2 separate regions of the Homo sapiens genome follow, and region 1 is linked to region 2. A link means that fine-mapping ties the variant in region 2 to the expression of a gene that starts in the linked region. Tissue or cell type: cerebellar hemisphere. Region 2 holds a variant in brackets; the other region holds the start of a gene. All regions are shown on one strand. Distances are between the middles of the regions.

The links. PIP is the estimated chance that this variant, and not a neighbour inherited with it, causes the effect.
Region 1: KCP starts here. The variant in region 2 is fine-mapped to the expression of KCP in cerebellar hemisphere (GTEx, PIP above 0.99). The same link has a PIP of 0.9 or more in cerebellum.

The regions. Positions count from the first base shown.
Region 1 is chr7:128,906,024-128,914,194 of GRCh38, reverse strand. It overlaps KCP (kielin cysteine rich BMP regulator), which reads left to right and starts at 3,486. Exons shown (of 40, transcript NM_001366122.1): 1 at 3,486-3,594; 2 at 5,627-5,769; 3 at 6,742-6,931; 4 at 7,018-7,094; 5 at 7,832-7,916. The coding sequence starts at 3,519. It also overlaps the pseudogene LOC392787.
Region 2 is chr7:128,877,964-128,886,134 of GRCh38, reverse strand. KCP (kielin cysteine rich BMP regulator) reads left to right here. Exons shown (of 40, transcript NM_001366122.1): 27 at 865-1,038; 28 at 1,272-1,354; 29 at 2,013-2,133; 30 at 4,119-4,198; 31 at 4,410-4,509; 32 at 5,050-5,138; 33 at 5,414-5,516; 34 at 5,607-5,749; 35 at 6,050-6,222; 36 at 6,306-6,417; 37 at 6,512-6,613; 38 at 7,413-7,577. Among named protein-coding and RNA genes, the nearest start is that of SPMIP1, 16 kb to the right of the region's middle. RefSeq lists enhancers at 817-1,416, 1,641-1,900, 2,351-2,460 and a silencer at 2,206-2,500. The variant G/A (reference allele first, on the strand shown) is at 5,117.

The sequences.
Region 1 (8,171 bases), 28 kb before region 2:
TGGCAGGCAGGGGCCAGGCTGGGCATGGGGCAGTGGCAGCCCCTCACAGAGGCTGCCCAGGGAGCTGAGGCACAGCCCATCTTGGGCCACAAGCCCTTCCTGCCCTCAGCCTTGCTACCTCTGGCCCCCAGGTGTGTCATCAGAGATCATGTGAACGCCCTGAACGCCTGCTCGGGGACCTTGTCTGTCACCATTGATGGCCCCACCAAGGTGCAGCTGGACTGTTGGGAGTGTCCTGAGGGCCACGTGGTCACTGACACTCCCATGGCCCCTGGCAACTACCTCATTGCCATCAAGTACGGTGGCCCCCAGCACATCGTGGGCAGCCCCTTCAAGGCCAAGGTCACTGGTGAGTGCCGGTTTGGGGGAGGTCCACCCAGCCTGCAGCCCAGCCCAGCCTGGAGGGCTCCGGTGGCCACGCACATCTAGGCCATAGTCTGCCCCCAGACATCATGGTCAGTTTACCAGGGCTAGAGGTGGGCCTGGCTCTACACAGTACACGTTCTGTGGAGTCGGGCATGATCATGTAAAAATGCCATTCTTCCTCTCCATCGTGGCCCCTCACTCCTTCAGCTCTGGCCTGCGCTGGCTCCTCAGGCTCTAGCACCACTTTCTTCCCTCCTGGCTTCCCATATTCCTCCGCTCCAAGAAGACACAGTCGGTATTGAGCAAGCTTCCCCTCTTGAGGCTGTCTGTAGGATGAGTTGGGTGGGTGTTCCTTTGTAAAGTGGCTCTTACCCTGTGAGTTAGCCTGAGTTCCCAGACAAAGCCTGCAAGGATGAGGGACGCAGCATCTGAGGCCCCAGCCCTAGGGTGGAGCACCAATTGGAGCTGGCAGCTCAGGGCCCTGGCTGGGAATGGGGCTGTGCTCCTAGAGTGGCCCTTGGAGGAATTTGGGGGGGAACCTCAAATGCAGGCAGTGAGTCCCACAGGGTGGCAGTGCTGGCCGAGGGTCCCCTGCCTGGGGAAGAACGGGAAGCCCTTCTGACTAGGTTTGTGCCCCCTCCACCCACCCCTCAGGTCCGAGGCTGTCCGGAGGCCACAGCCTTCACGAAACATCCACGGTTCTGGTGGAGACTGTGACCAAGTCCTCCTCAAGCCGGGGCTCCAGCTACAACTCCATCCCCAAGTTCTCCTCAGATGCCAGCAAGGTGGTGACTCGGGGCCCTGGGCTGTCCCAGGCCTTCGTGGGCCAGAAGAACTCCTTCACCGTGGACTGCAGCAAAGCAGGCAGGTGGCGGGGGGAGGGCGTCTCCCGGGGTGTGAGCAAGAAGCCGTCAGGGAGCAGGGTGTGGGTCACAGTAGGGGACTCCCTGGTGTGAGCCTGTCCCTCTGCCTCCCTCTCCAGGCACCAACATGATGATGGTGGGCGTGCACGGCCCCAAGACCCCCTGTGAGGAGGTGTACGTGAAGCACATGGGGAACCGGGTGTACAATGTCACCTACACTGTCAAGGAGAAAGGGACTACATCCTTATCGTCAAGTGGGGTGACGAAAGTGTCCCTGGAAGCCCCTTCAAAGTCAAGGTCCCTTGAGTCCCAAAAGTGCCTCCCCAGCCTCAGCCCCCACCTCCAGCCAAACACACATTACATACACACACACACACACACAAATGTGCCACACCCAGACACACACACACAGAATCAGACACTACAAACACCTGCCTTGGGGGTGAAGTGAAGGCCCAGCCTCCCCACCCCACCGCACCCCAGGGGTTGGAGGACCTTTTCTGTGTCAGGACAGTGTCCCTCCCTGGGAATGTGATATGAGGGCCGACTGGGGCCAGGCTCAGTGGCAGAGGCTAAGACACAAGGGACTGGAAGGGGACTGTGGGGCGAGGGAAGCCCTGTGCATCCTCCCAGTGTGGTTTAGAGCTGCTCACCCTGATTCTCTCTGATTCTTTCTGTAAAATGGGGATGGAGGTGCCCCCATTCTTCATAAGGGAAGTAAAAATTGCTCATACCTCTGTGCCAAGCACCATGCATTACTAATCCTTACAAACACTCCATGAGGTGGGTGCTGTTAGAGCTCCAGTCACAGTTCAGAAAAATCAGCCACCAAAAGTGAAGTGACCAGCCAGAGGCCCCAGAGCAGAAAGCAAGAGCTCCAGGATGCGCCCTGGCAACCCTGCCAGAATCTGTGCTCTGAACCGTCCCACTACCCAGCCCCTCAGAGGACTTGCTTTCCAGAGGCACCCGGTCAATGAAAGCCACCTTCCTTAAACCTGCCAGGAATAGTGCTGCCGCTTCCTTGTTCCTCTTCTGGCTGGCTGGCCCTGGCTTTCCTCTGTGACCTCAGCTCCAGGCACTGAGGCCAGGTCTTAGCGTGGCATTGCAGCCTCCCTGCCCCCTGTGGCAAAGGCTCAGGTCCACTATGGGCCCAGACTCTGGGGCAGAGAAGCTGCCGTCTCCTTACTGAAGCTTTAAGCTTGGTGGAGAGTGGGCTGGGGAGACCTCAGTCCCTGCCTGGTCTAGGGGGAGGGGTGGCTTCCGACTTCTGGTCTTTATGACAGGGAGGGAGAGCTTTGGAAGGGTTCACAGCTCCGCCCTCAATGTTCCTTTTTGCCTGTGAGCTTCGCCTGTGAGACCCAACCCTCTGCTTCCCAGCTTCAAGGAGGAGTTTCCCAGCCTGTGGGCCCACAGGGACGGCTGTCCTCACTTCCTCCCTTTGGCCCCCTCTGCCTGCTGAGCCCAGGGCCCAGCCCTGCCCCCTACCCAGGCTCACCCCACAGCCAGGCCTGAGCTCAGGAGTGGGAAATGGGGCTGAGACCAGCCAGTGAAGGGCGGCCTTGGCATTTGGGGCCAAGCCTGGGACTGCTGGGGTGGGTAGGGGTGTTGAGTGGAGTTCAGGAAAGAAACTTATAGGGGAGAGAGGAAAACACTGGTCGTGTCCATGATTTCAGAGATCAGGAGTTCTTATTATTATTATTTGTTATTTACTGAGCATTTACCATCTCTCTACCGACTCTAAATTCTTTACTTATATAATCTCACTTAATGCTCACTGCAAGTCTATAAAGTAGATGTGGTGATCCCCAGTTTACAGATAGGGAAATTGAGGCACAGAGAAGTTAGTGGTCTAAGGCCACATGGAATTGGCTGAGCAGGGATCTAAACCCAGCTCAGTCTGCTTCTTCTGTAAACTTGTGAGAGAGAGGAAAAATCGATCTGGAAACCCTAGGGCGATGGAGTAACCTAAAAGGGCAGGGAGACTCTCTAGGATCCCGAGAGGGGTGGACTTGGGTTTATTTTCTTTTCAGGGTCTCCTCCTGGATCTTAAGCGGAGACAAGGCCTACACCCCCGTTGGGCTTCCTGCGAGCTGGAGCTGCTCTCTGGGGTCAGGACCGGCCGGGCCCGGGGCGGGTGGAGGTGTGCATGGGAAAGGCGCGCGCGGTGGGGGGTTTGAGCCCTCCCTGAACAAAGCCTGGGTGGGAGCGGCCTGTGTGTCCCCACCCCGCCTTCCCCAGCGCCTGCTGAGCCGCGACGACAGACGGCGAGCCGAGCGAGGCGGAGCTAGCATGGCCGGGGTCGGGGCCGCTGCGCTGTCCCTTCTCCTGCACCTCGGGGCCCTGGCGCTGGCCGCGGGCGCGGAAGGTGAGTCCAGGTGCGGGAGGCTTGGGGTCCGGCCAGGTGCGCCCCCTCCCTCCTATCAGCCCGGCCTGAGGGGGCCGAGAGGGGCTGGGGGCTCTGCTCTTAGCCCTGCCTGAGGTTCGCGCGCCTCCCTGGCCAGCTCCGTCCTCCCCGTCGGGGGAGCGAGCAGGGTGGGGAAGACCACGGCCAAAGCAGGGGGTTCAGGAGAGGGGGGCGGTTCCTGCAGCCGGCGGCGGGAGAGAGTGCGGCTGCCCTGGCATCTGGGAGTCTGAAGTTAATTATTTGTCTTGACGAAGGAGGGGGAGAAAAGGGGCCCGCTGTGGAAGCTGACTTTGCATCTGTGTCTGGCCCTCCCCGGAGCAGGACAGGCGGGAATGGAGGGCTCGGTGCCGGCACGGGGCCAGGGGAGGCTAAGAGGGGAACCCGGGACAATTCCTTGGGGACCAGCCAAGTTTGTGCCACTCGGAGCTCTTTCTGCAGGTCTCTCCAGGCGAGGCTGGCCCTAGCTTCACCTAGGGGTCCCAGAGGATTCAGCTTCTCCCGGGCTCCCATATCCTGCCTGCCTACTTAAGCAGAACTGGAGGAGTGGCCTGGGAGGAGGGGCCCTGGGCAGCAGGATGAGGCCCCACGGGAGTCTAGATTGGGTAGAAGGTTTCAGATGCTGAGACGCCCATCGTGGCCGCCCTCTGTGTGCTTGGGAAGGACTGAGACCGGGTGCCATTCCGGGTGACAGGATCCCCAGTAGAGGGACGGAGATGGGAAAGGGCACCTGGGGTTTGAGGGCCAGTATTCGCCCAGGGTGCGGGAACTGAGTTAGAATCCCTGATATAAGCCAGAAGTAGCGGGGCTGGAAAGGTGGGCGGTGCTTGTGATCCATCCCAGCGGGACTTGCTCCTGGGAGACTTCGGCTGTGTGATTCAGAAAGGTCGAGTGGAGAGAAGGGGCACAGATGGAGGCAGGGACGCTTTGTCTTCAGCCTTCTGAATGGAGATGGTGGAGAGAGGAGAAGGGGGGGATGTATTAGGGGACAACTCAGGCAACAAAATAGGGGAGCTGAGCCCCAGCTTTCTGGCTTAAGTAACTGGGTATGTGTGATGGCATTAACCAAGCCAGGGAACTTGGGACAAAGCAAGTTCAATTTTAGCCTAGAATCCCCTCTGCCTTTGATGGTGACAGTGGGTGACATTGTTCCCCTGTCTCACAGGCCTAGTGTCTGTGAGAAACCCTTTTAAGCCACTCCAGGCCTGGCCTCACTAATGAGCTGCCATGGTGGGAAAGACCCATCCCTCTCCCTCCTCCTCTCTCTGTTCCTATTGCCTCCGCTCCAGACCCTCAACTTCCCTGCCCATCCCTGCCTGGAGGAGGGACCTATGTCTGCCTCTTCCCCTCCTGCCTTTACTTTCTGGGCTGCAGGAGAAGGATCAAAGTGAAAAGGTGAAAGTGGCCGCCCCTAACCCCAGGCCAGAGCTCAGAGGTGCCCCGTCCCTCTTTCCTGGACATAGTGTCTTCTAGAAGCAGGGACAGGCTGTCTTCACTGGATCTGGTGTGTTCAAAGTTAGCAGGGGCCTTGCCAGCACATTTCTCACACCCTTCAGAAAATGCAGCCAAGTCCCACTTTTGAAGCCCACCCCACCCAATGTGGGAGCCCCCAGGAACCCCTGTCACAAGCCTGGAAAACCGTGCTCAGGGTTGGGGGCGGGAGCAGTTGTCCTTCCCTGAGCACATTCTCCAAAAGTTGTGGCCTTTCTGACAGGTGCAGAGAGTCAGGGGATGGGGGCTGCTCATGTTCTCCCTGAAAAGACTCTCAGCCAGACCCCAGACCCCTGAAAGCAGCTCCACCTGGCGCATGTCTGTGGCCTTCCCCTGCGTTTCAGCCTGTGCTGGCTTCCCGGCCCTGGATGGTGGGTGGGCAATTGGAGAGGGCAGGGTGCACAGGATGACCCCCTTCCCCTGTGGGTCAGAAGACAGAACCCAGAAAATGTGGCCAGGCCAGCCCCTCACCCTCAGGCCCACATGGGATTCTTGTGCCCTTCAGGTGGGGCTGTCCCCAGGGAGCCCCCTGGGCAGCAGACAACTGCCCATTCCTCAGTCCTTGCTGGGAACTCCCAGGAGCAGTGGCACCCCCTGCGAGAGTGGCTGGGGCGACTGGAGGCTGCAGTGATGGAGCTCAGAGAACAGGTACCATGGAGACAGTGCTGGTTTGCATTGGGTAAGGAGGGCTTCTCATAGTGGGAGGGAGAGAAGGAGTTAGGCTTGGAGGGGGGAGCCTAAAATAGAGCTCTTATCTGAACAATTCCCTTTCTTTCTTTCTTTCTTTCTTTCTTTCTTTCTTTCTTTCTTTCTTTCTTTCTTCTTTCTTTCTTCCTTTCTTCTTTCCTTCCCTCCTTCCTTTCTTTTTTTTTCTTTCTTTTCCTTCCTTCCTTCCTTCCATCCTTCTTCTCTCTTTCTCTCTCTCTCTTTCTTTTTTTTTTTTTTGAGATGGAGTCACCATGTGTCACCCAGGCTGGAGTGCAGTGGCACAATCTCAGCTCCCTGCAACCTCTGCCTCCTGGGTTCAAGTGATTCTTACGCTTCAGCCTCCTGAGTAGTTGGGACTACAAGTGTGCACCACCATACCCGGCTAATTTTTGTATTTTTAGTAGAGATAGGATTTCACCACGTTGGCCAGGCTGGTCTCGAACTCCTGACCTTAGGTGATCTGCCCGCCTCAGCCTCTCCAAGTGCTGGGATTACAGGTGTGAGCCACCAGGCCTGGCCAGAACAATTCTTAACATTGATTCTTTCATGCAAATGAAGAACCTCCAGGCTATTTGTTTTGTCAGTTCGTGTTTCGTACTGTTCCATGTATTTGGGGAATGTTATGGAATGCATTCTATATAAGGCATCATCAAAAATATTTTGGATGGGTAAAGATGTCTTTAATTCTTGGGGCAAGGGTTGGGTCCCCATTTTGTCCAAAGGAGAGATTGGGGCCCGTGCCCCCCTGAGAATGGTGATCGTTTGAGCTGGATGCTGACCGAGGGGGACCCATCTCTGCTCTGGAATTGGCGAACTTCTTTCTCATCCTGCCTCATTTTCACACCCCTCATCTCTACTGGAGATGGTGGGGGAAGCTGAGCCAGTGCCTGCTATTCCATCTCCTTCCTCCAGAATAAGGACCTGCAGACGAGGGTGAGGCAGCTGGAGTCCTGTGAGTGCCACCCTGCATCTCCCCAGTGCTGGGGGCTGGGGCGTGCCTGGCCCGAGGGGGCACGCTGGGAGCCTGACGCCTGCACAGCCTGCGTCTGCCAGGATGGGGCCGCTCACTGTGGCCCCCAAGCACACCTGCCCCATTGCAGGGGTAAGTGCCACCCTATCCGCCCACTGGGGCCACCTAAAGACCTGCAGATGGCATGGGGTGCTTGAGTGACACTGCTGTCTCCTTAGGCTGCAGCCAAAATGGCCAGACCTACGGCAACGGGGAGACCTTCTCCCCAGATGCCTGCACCACCTGCCGCTGTCTGGTAAGCTCCCAGGACCTACCTGGATATCCCTCACCTGTCTGCCTCTCTCCAGCTACCTGTCACTGCAGCGTGGCACTCAAGATGTCGCATAATGGGCTCTGCCTGCCACTCCCACACCTTGCCACGGTGGCTTTCAGTTGATTCCGAGTAGGAAAAGGAGCTCAATGCCCACGGACACTGGGGGGTCCCCAAGCCACTCAATTCAGACCTGGCCAACAGTGGCATGGAGGGCAGAGAATGTATTAGGTTGGTGCAAAAGTAATTGCGGTTTTTGACATGACTTTTAATGGCAAAAACCGCAATTACTTTTGCACCAACTTAATAGTTGCTTGTCCTCCTATATCACCTCCCACTCTTCCACTGCCCATCTTCTACTTCGGAACCCCCTGGCCTGCCTATTCTCCCTCACCAGTTGCCACATCCACCTTCCCCCAGTCTTTCCTTCCTCCTTCCTCCCTGAGAAAGTCTTCGGTCTTCTTCCTAGGATCTCCCCTCTCTGGGGAATGTGCTGGCACCTGGAAGAGATGGTTTCCTAGGGTTAAGAGCATCAGGAGACGATGGGAGTGGGGGCGGGATGTCTCTTTTCTGCCTTTACACAGAGGGTAGCCCACATCCACAGAGCCAACTCATCCTCTTGCCCCTATGACATGTCCCAGCCTGGGCTGAGGTTTTACTTCCAGAGGCCCTGCCCTCCAGGAATCTGATGTCTGTGCAGCCACCTCAGTCTGCTCCCACAGGAAGGTACCATCACTTGCAACCAGAAGCCATGCCCAAGAGGACCCTGCCCTGAGCCAGGAGCATGCTGCCCGCACTGTAAGCCAGGTCAGCCTCCTGCCAGTCTCAGCCCCACCTCCTGCTTGCCTTCTCTGGCCCACAGACACAGCCTGCCACCTCAGTGAGTCTGGGACATGCCCAGGGGTGCCTACCCACTCACTCTGACAGTGGCCAGGGGAGTGCAGAACCCATGCACAAATCAGCAAATACTGGCTCTGGCCTGGGACTGAGCCAGAGACCATAGGGAAACAGGCACAAAATCTTTTTCCTGCCCTCAGGGAGCCTCCAATCTAGTTGAGAAGA
Region 2 (8,171 bases):
ATTTGCACCACTGTGCTCCAGCCTGGGCAACAAAGAAGACTCTGTCTAAAAAATAAAACAAAAAGCTGCCCCTCTTCCTAACCACACCCCATTCATCATCATCATCATCATCACCACCATCATCATCATCATCAAGATACCTGACATTCAGTGAGCAGGTAGCATGTGCCAGGCCCTGAGCACTTTACGTGTATTATCTCATTTAATCAGCACAACAACTTACCAGATAAGCACTCTTAGTCCTCCTATTTTACAGACGAGAAAGTGGAGGTACAGAGAGGTAGAGAAGGTGGCAGAGTCAAGATGGACACTTGGACCATCTGGCTCTGAACTTGAGCCTTTCTTAGCCTGCCCACTGCCCCCTCGTCCCACACCCTGCGCAGTGTGGTGGTGTTTCTACAGAACCACAGAACTGTCATAGCATTTCACTTGCTCTGGGAGGGAGGCAGGACAGAGGAAATCCCCATTTAACAGATGAGGAGACTGAGGCCCGGAGAGACTGAGTTACCTTGGGCACATGGTTAGCGATGGAGCCATTCACCTGGTCCACATGCATTTATGACACAGCTGCTGCATGCCAGGTCTGTGGCCGGTGCGGGCTGCACTGGGCAGTGCCTGCTGCCTGGAGCTTGGTCTTGAGAGCAGGTAGGAACAGAACAGGATTAGAACCCAGGTGTTCTGAACCCCTCCCAGTGCCTTTCCCCTCCACAACAGACAGGAGTTCTGCCCCATCGCACCTTCCCGCCATATCCCTGCAAACTCACTCCTGGCGCCACGTGCCTAGCTGACCACTGAGGGTGGGGGCCAGGAGCAGATGTCCAGATCTCAACCTCCGAGCTCGTCCCTGCCCACTTTGCACCACAGGCTGCCTGGCTCATGGGGAAGAGCACCCCGAAGGCAGTAGATGGGTGCCCCCCGACAGTGCCTGCTCCTCCTGTGTGTGTCACGAGGGCGTCGTCACCTGTGCACGCATCCAGTGCATCAGCTCTTGCGCCCAGCCCCGCCAAGGGCCCCATGACTGCTGTCCTCAATGCTCTGGTACTGGAAGCCTGGGGCGGGAGGGGAAAGGCGAGGAGGGAGCCCTGGGCCCACACCTCCCTGCCGCTGCTGGGCCGGGTGGCAGAGACAGGCAGTTGGAGAAGTGGCCTCCGTCCTTGTGCACACTCCACTCCCTGGGATCAGGGGGAGGCTGGAGATAGAGGACTCCACCCCTGCCTCGCTGCCAGCCTGAAGGACCCCTGGTCCCGTTCTGCTCTCACTCCACCCCAAAGACTGTGAGCATGAGGGCCGGAAGTACGAGCCTGGGGAGAGCTTCCAGCCTGGGGCAGACCCCTGTGAAGTGTGCATCTGCGAGGTAGGTGAGGGCACAGTGGTGGGGCTGGGGCACCTCGTCGGGGGGGAGTGGGCAGCATGGGATGAGGCCCAGCCAAGCTGGTCACTGCATGGAGCAGGCACTCTGGGGGCCAAAGGAGTGTATCCCTGTGGCCAGGAGACAAGGCAGGGTTGGGGCCAACAGGGCCAGGAGGTCTGGGTTTAGACAAGGAGCGCAGGTTCCAAGTGTGCAGGAGGCCGTAGGTGGCCCCCCTGGCTGCAGTGCAGGGCGGGTGTGTATGGCCGGAGAGCCACCTGGGACGTGGCTAGGGGTCATATTGTGGAGATTCTATTTGCAAGGCCATGGAAGGGCTTGGAGCAGGCAAATGACATCACAGGTCAGGGTACTAAGCCATGGGCCTGGGGAGGAGGATGGCATGAGCCTGCCGGAGGATCAAAGGTCACATGAGGGCTCAGGCCCAAGTGACTTAAAGGAGAAGGAGACATCATCTCAGAGACTAGGGCATGGGGTGAGGAGCACGTCTAGAAGACACTGAGTCTCTCTTCAGCCTTGAGTTCAGGGCCCAAGACATGTCCCGGAAGAGGCTGCAGCAGGCAGAGGGAGGGGCCGGAAGTCCCGGCCAAGGGCAGCTCTGGGTTTTTGTGGCCCAGGACCCACCGCTGCTCACTCATTCTTGTAGCCACAGCCTGAGGGGCCTCCCAGCCTTCGCTGTCACCGGCGGCAGTGTCCCAGCCTGGTGGGCTGCCCCCCCAGCCAGCTCCTGCCCCCTGGGCCCCAGCACTGCTGTCCCACCTGTGCCGGTGAGTCCAGGGATGTGGGGGTAGATGAGATATGAGGTTAGGGCTGCCACCCCCTGCCGCCCTTCCTCACCAGTCCCAGCCCCAGATTCTTCCTGACTCCAGTGGACTGTTCTGGAACCCTATGCCTGGCCGGCGAGGGCTGCACCATCCCTAAGGGAACTGGGGAAGCTGACAGGAACCCTTTGCCTCTCCGCAGCTGGGTGCAGTTTGTGGAGCATCTTGGCCAGCAGGTGGCGCTGCAGGGCGACAGTTGTGCTGAGACGTGAGGCCCAGGCAGGCAGGGGGTAGCCCAGCCACAGGGGTGGGCGAGCTTTTTTTGTTGTCGTTGTTAGAGTAAAAATTTATTAAGATTGGGGGGAAAAGTAAAGAAACAGTTTTATTTTTATTACAAATATTGAAAGATGGCCAATTTCTGTCTCCTGGATTTAATAGTTGTTTACCTAACACAGCCATTTTACATTTGTTGTGGAGGGAATTTTTTTCTGTTTCTGGTCCTATACCAACACTGAAATGATAACCTACCTTTGCAATACAGGTGAACGTTATCCTTACATAGAAAAAACAGGCCGAGGTTGGTAGCTCACGCCTGTAATCCCAGCACTTTGGGAGGCCAAGGTGGGAGGATCACAAGGTCAAGAGATCGAGACCATCCTGGCCAACATGGTGAAACCCCGTCTCTACTAAAAATACAAAAATTAGCTGGGCATGATGGGGCATGCCTGTAGTCCCAGCTACTCGGGAGGCTGAGGCAGGAGGATAGCTTGAACCCGGGAGGCAGAGGTTGCAGTGAGCTGAGATGGTGCCACTACACTGCAACCTGGCAACAGAGCGAGATTCTGTCTCAAAAAAAAAAAAAGAAAGAAAAAACATACTTTTTTTTTTAATGATAATCCTATTTTCTCCAATTTGGTTTTTTTATTTGGGTTTTGGTTTTTTTGAGACGGAGTCTCGCTTTGTCGCACAGGCTGGAGTGCGGTGGCACAATCTCGGCTCACTGCAACCTCTGGATTCGAGGGATTCACCTGCCTCAGCCTCCCGAGTAGCTGGGATTATAGGCATGCGCCATCAAGCCTGGCTAATTTTTGTATTTTTAGTAGAGATGGGGTTTTAACATGTTGGCCAGGCTGGTCTCGAACTCCTGACCTCAGGTGATCCACCCGCCTCAGCCTCCGAAAGAGCTGGATTACAGGTGTGAGCCACCTCGCCGACTTTTCTGTTTTTTGTTTGTTTGTTTGTTTGTTTGTTTTTTATGGTGGTAAGACACTAAAATGTACAATCCTAACCATTTTTAAGTGTACAGTTTGTGGTATTAAATACGTTCATAATGCTGTGCAGTCATCCCTGGCATCCATCAGGGAGGGCTGCTCTGATCAACACTTGCTAGGGGGTGCTTCAGGGGAAGGGAAGAAGACTAACATTGATTAAGCACCTGTTCCATGCCACAGACTGTACTTGGTGCTCTTAATAAAGTCTCTCGCTTCATTTTCATAGTTACCCAGTGAGGGAAGTATTATTAATCTCTTTTTACAGATTAAGAAACTGAGGCTCAGAGAGGTGGATTAATCCAACCTAATAAGCACAGGCACTGAGTGCTGGCATCAGGATTCGAACCCGGGATGCCTGGCTGTGTGCTTCCCTGCGCAGTTGTAGCCACACTGTATTACAGATAGCGGGAGGGAGAGCAGGCCGCAGACTGGCCATTTTTAGTGACCTCAGGCTAAGGAAGCCATGGTTGGTCTGTTTCCAGTCACCTTGCACCCCCACCCGGCCCCAAATAATAGCCTAGCAAAGTTTCTTTTAAAACGTGTAAACTTGACTGAATTGAAGAGAAAGAGGACTTATCCTCCCTGGAGTCAAGGTGCTGGGATATGGGTATGCTCAGGAGTTCGAGTTAGAAACCTGGGGACACAGTGCATGGGGACAGCTGGGATTTCCAGCCCTGTGCCCCTCTTTCTGTCCCGCACTCTGGATTCTTGTCTTCACAGAGGCCTTGAGTAACTGTTCAGAGGGCCTGCTGGGATCTGAGCTAGCCCCACCAGACCCCTGCTACACGTGCCAGTGCCAGGTGAGCCCTCCTGCCTTGGGGACTCACAGAGCCCCTCTTCTTCCTTCTCTGTGGGCTGTGGCTGCCACTCCTCTCCCGCAGCAGCTCCAGGGCTCTCCATTCGCCCTGACATTTGCCCACTTGTCCTGACTGTCACATCCTGCCTATGCCTTACTCCTCCACCAGCTCCCTGAGATCTGCCATTCTCTACCTCTTGTGTTCACATGGGCAGGACCTGACATGGCTCTGCATCCACCAGGCTTGTCCTGAGCTCAGCTGTCCCCTCTCAGAGCGCCACACTCCCCCTGGGAGCTGCTGCCCCGTATGCCGGGGTAAGTGCCCAGCCTTGGCCTCCACCCTCAGAGAGGAGCCCAGGGGGAACACAGGAAGGGGAGGCATTCATGGGCCAAGCGGGCAGCCCAGGGTTTGTACTCGGTTTCTAGAACAGAATGCAGGGTTCATTCTTTTCTAGAAATGGAGGGGGGCTGTTCTTGAGGTGGAGAAGAGACCCATGAGGCAGGGGGAAGCTGGGATGAAGCCTAGATTCTCAAGGTCTGGCCTGATGCCTGTCAGGGGGCTCAGGATCCCCAGGCCCATGAAGAGGGCATTGCACTGCTGAGCGGGCAGCTGGCCCAGAGTGGGGTTCCAGCCTCTGGCCCTTTGGGCTCCTAGGACCCTAGAGACATCCTGAGCTCTGATGTGAGGCCTGATGTCTAATAGGCCCTGTGGATATTGGCTGAAGAAATCAACACCATCAGGGTGGTAGGGACACGGAGTGGGTGCTTTCCTGCCGTGAAATGCTGGGTAAGCTCCAAGGAGGGAGGATACAGCAGGAGGGACAGTGCCTGCCCATCCCATGTCTCCCCCCTCAGAATGTGTGGTGGAGGCCGAGGGCCGGAGAGTGGCAGATGGAGAGAGCTGGCGGGACCCCAGCAATGC[G/A]TGCATCGCCTGCACCTGCCATGTGAGCTGGGGTGGGCCTGGGAGGGTGGAGGATCTCGCAGATGGATAAAGGGAGGAGTGTCCAACACTCCACCAGCAGATATGGGGTCTTTAAGGGTCAGGGGCATCCCTGCACCGGGGCATGGAGCCGAAGGCTGGATTTCATTCCCCTCTTGAACTGTGAAGAATGTATTGTGGGAGGGGCAGGCAGAAGTCCATGCCCAGAGGCCCCCAGAAGCATGAGGCTGGGGACTCCGGCCCTGCAGAAAACCCCAGAACAATGATGTCTGTCCTCAGCGGGGCCATGTGGAGTGCCACCTCGAGGAGTGCCAGGCCCTCTCCTGCCCCCATGGCTGGGCGAAGGTGCCCCAGGCTGACAGCTGCTGTGAGCGATGCCAAGGTGCGCAGCCAGGGTGATGGGGGAGGGGTAAGCCAGACCTTCTGGGCATGTGGGAGGAGCAGCTGACCCTCCCAGCTCCTATCCCTTCAGCTCCCACCCAGTCCTGCGTGCACCAGGGCCGTGAGGTGGCCTCTGGAGAGCGCTGGACTGTGGACACCTGCACCAGCTGCTCCTGCATGGCGGGCACCGTGCGTTGCCAGAGCCAGCGCTGCTCACCGCTCTCGTGTGGCCCCGTGAGTGCCGCAATCTAAAATGGTGGGGAGGGTCAGGGTGGGGGCACATGGTACCGCCATCCTGGTGTGACCAGGCATCAGAGAGGGAGGCTGGGCTCCTGCCGCCAGCTGGGAGCTGGGGACAGTGCTGTTCCCAGTGCGACCACGATGTGGTGCCCTGACCTCACTCACAGGGAGCCTGGGAGCCAGAGTCCTGGAGATCCCTGGAGACTCCTGGGAGATGCTTGGTTTTCTGGGAGGGTCTGCGAGAGGCATGGCGGGGAGGGCGGTGTGTCTGACAGTGTCTGGGGCTGAGTGCAGGACAAGGCCCCTGCCCTGAGTCCTGGCAGCTGCTGCCCCCGCTGCCTGCCTCGGCCCGCTTCCTGCATGGCCTTCGGAGACCCCCATTACCGCACCTTCGACGGCCGCCTGCTGCACTTCCAGGGCAGTTGCAGCTATGTGCTGGCCAAGGACTGCCACAGCGGGGACTTCAGGTGTGCATCCCCTGTCTCTCTTCTCCCCAACCCCTACACCCAGCCCTGCTGACCATTGGCACCTGGGACTTTCCTGCCCACAGTGTGCACGTGACCAATGATGACCGGGGCCGGAGCGGTGTGGCCTGGACCCAGGAGGTGGCGGTGCTGCTGGGAGACATGGCCGTGCGGCTGCTGCAGGACGGGGCAGTCACGGTGAGCAAAGCCGAGGAGTGGAGGAAGGTGGATCCTGTGCTGTCCACCCATGTGCCTCGACATCACCCCTCCTCCCACCTCCTTTATCCTCCAGGTGGATGGGCACCCGGTGGCCTTGCCCTTCCTGCAGGAGCCGCTGCTGTATGTGGAGCTGCGAGGACACACTGTGATCCTGCACGCCCAGCCCGGGCTCCAGGTGCGGCTCCAGGGCGAGTCTGGGTGGGCTGCCTGCTGGGAGCTTCAGTCCTGTTTAGGCCTCTGTATCTGTAGAGGGGGTGGGGATGCCAGCTACCTCCTAGCCAAAAAAGGCAAGGAGTGGGGTACAGGGGTGTGAGGGGAGGTGGATCAGGGTCAGAGATCTCCCCAGGCAGTCAGAGGAGTTCTGAGTTCTGAGCCCGATTTCTAATCTCGGCTCAGCCTCTTAAGCCACCACCAGCCTCCTCTGGGCCACAGATTTCTCGTCTGTAAAGTGGGGAATGGGAAGGGTCAGTGGCAGTGGGGAGGATGTCAGCTGAAGTCTCCTGGGGGGGTGTCTCAGGTTCCTTCCAACTCTCATGTGGAAGAGTAATTTGCCCCCTGCCCCCAGCAGGAAACACAACTCGTAAATTCGTAGAATAAGGGTGTACACTTCTAATCCGGACCCTAATTGTGCTTTGTCCTCTGCAAGGCCCGAATGCCCATGAGAAAGTGAATCCCCGGAAGGGGGTTGCATTTCACCTGGGGCCCAGTGCAGGGATGGCAGCAGGAGAAGGTGCCCTCATGCAGGAGCTGTGGGCAGCTCCTCCTGTCATCTGTCTTTGCCCAGGGCTGGCACAGAATGTATCCACTTGGCCTTGGCCAGGGTGGTGTTTCTTCCAAGGGGAGCCTCCACCTGTCCATTCTCCTCCCCTACAGCACTGGCCGCACTGAACACAGTGCCTGGGGCCATGATGGACCCTGGGCTTCTTAAGGCCCCTGTCCTTCCCTGCTCCCCAGTCTCAGGCCTCTCCACACAGGTGCTGTGGGATGGGCAGTCCCAGGTGGAGGTGAGCGTACCTGGCTCCTACCAGGGCCGGACTTGTGGGCTCTGTGGGAACTTCAATGGCTTTGCCCAGGACGATCTGCAGGGCCCTGAGGGGCTGCTCCTGCCCTCGGAGGCTGCGTTTGGGAATAGCTGGCAGGTGAGTGGTACAGGAACCGGGGATGGGGATTAGGGGAGACGCAGCTGAGCATGAGTCTCAGAGCAACCCTCTGGCATGGAAAGCAGGGAAGGGGGGCGAAGTCACACAAGATAGGCTTTTGGGCTTTCAGGGAGGTGTGGGGGCTTCTTGCCTGTCTTGGTGCTGGAGAGGTAGGGTGGCTTGTCAAAAGAGGCCTCATTGGCCGGGCAGGGTGGCTCATGCCTATAATCCCAGCACTTTGGGATGCCGAGGTGGGTGGATCACCTGAGGTTGGGAGTTTGAAACCAGCCTGACCAACATGGAGAAACCCCATCTCTACTAAAAATACAAAATTAGCCCAGCCTGGTGGTGCATATGCCTGTAATCCCAGCTACTCGGGTGGCTGAGGCAGGAGAATCACTTGAACCCAGGAAGTGGAAGTTGTGGTGAGCTGAGATCGTGCCACTGCACTCCAGCCTGAGCAACAAGAGCAAAATTCTGTCTCAAAAAAAAAAAAAAAAAAGAAGGCTTGTTACCTGAACCCTCAAGCCTTGCTTTGCCACTCACTGGCTGTGTGACCTTGGACAAGTGCTGACCTACTCTGGCCTTGGTCTG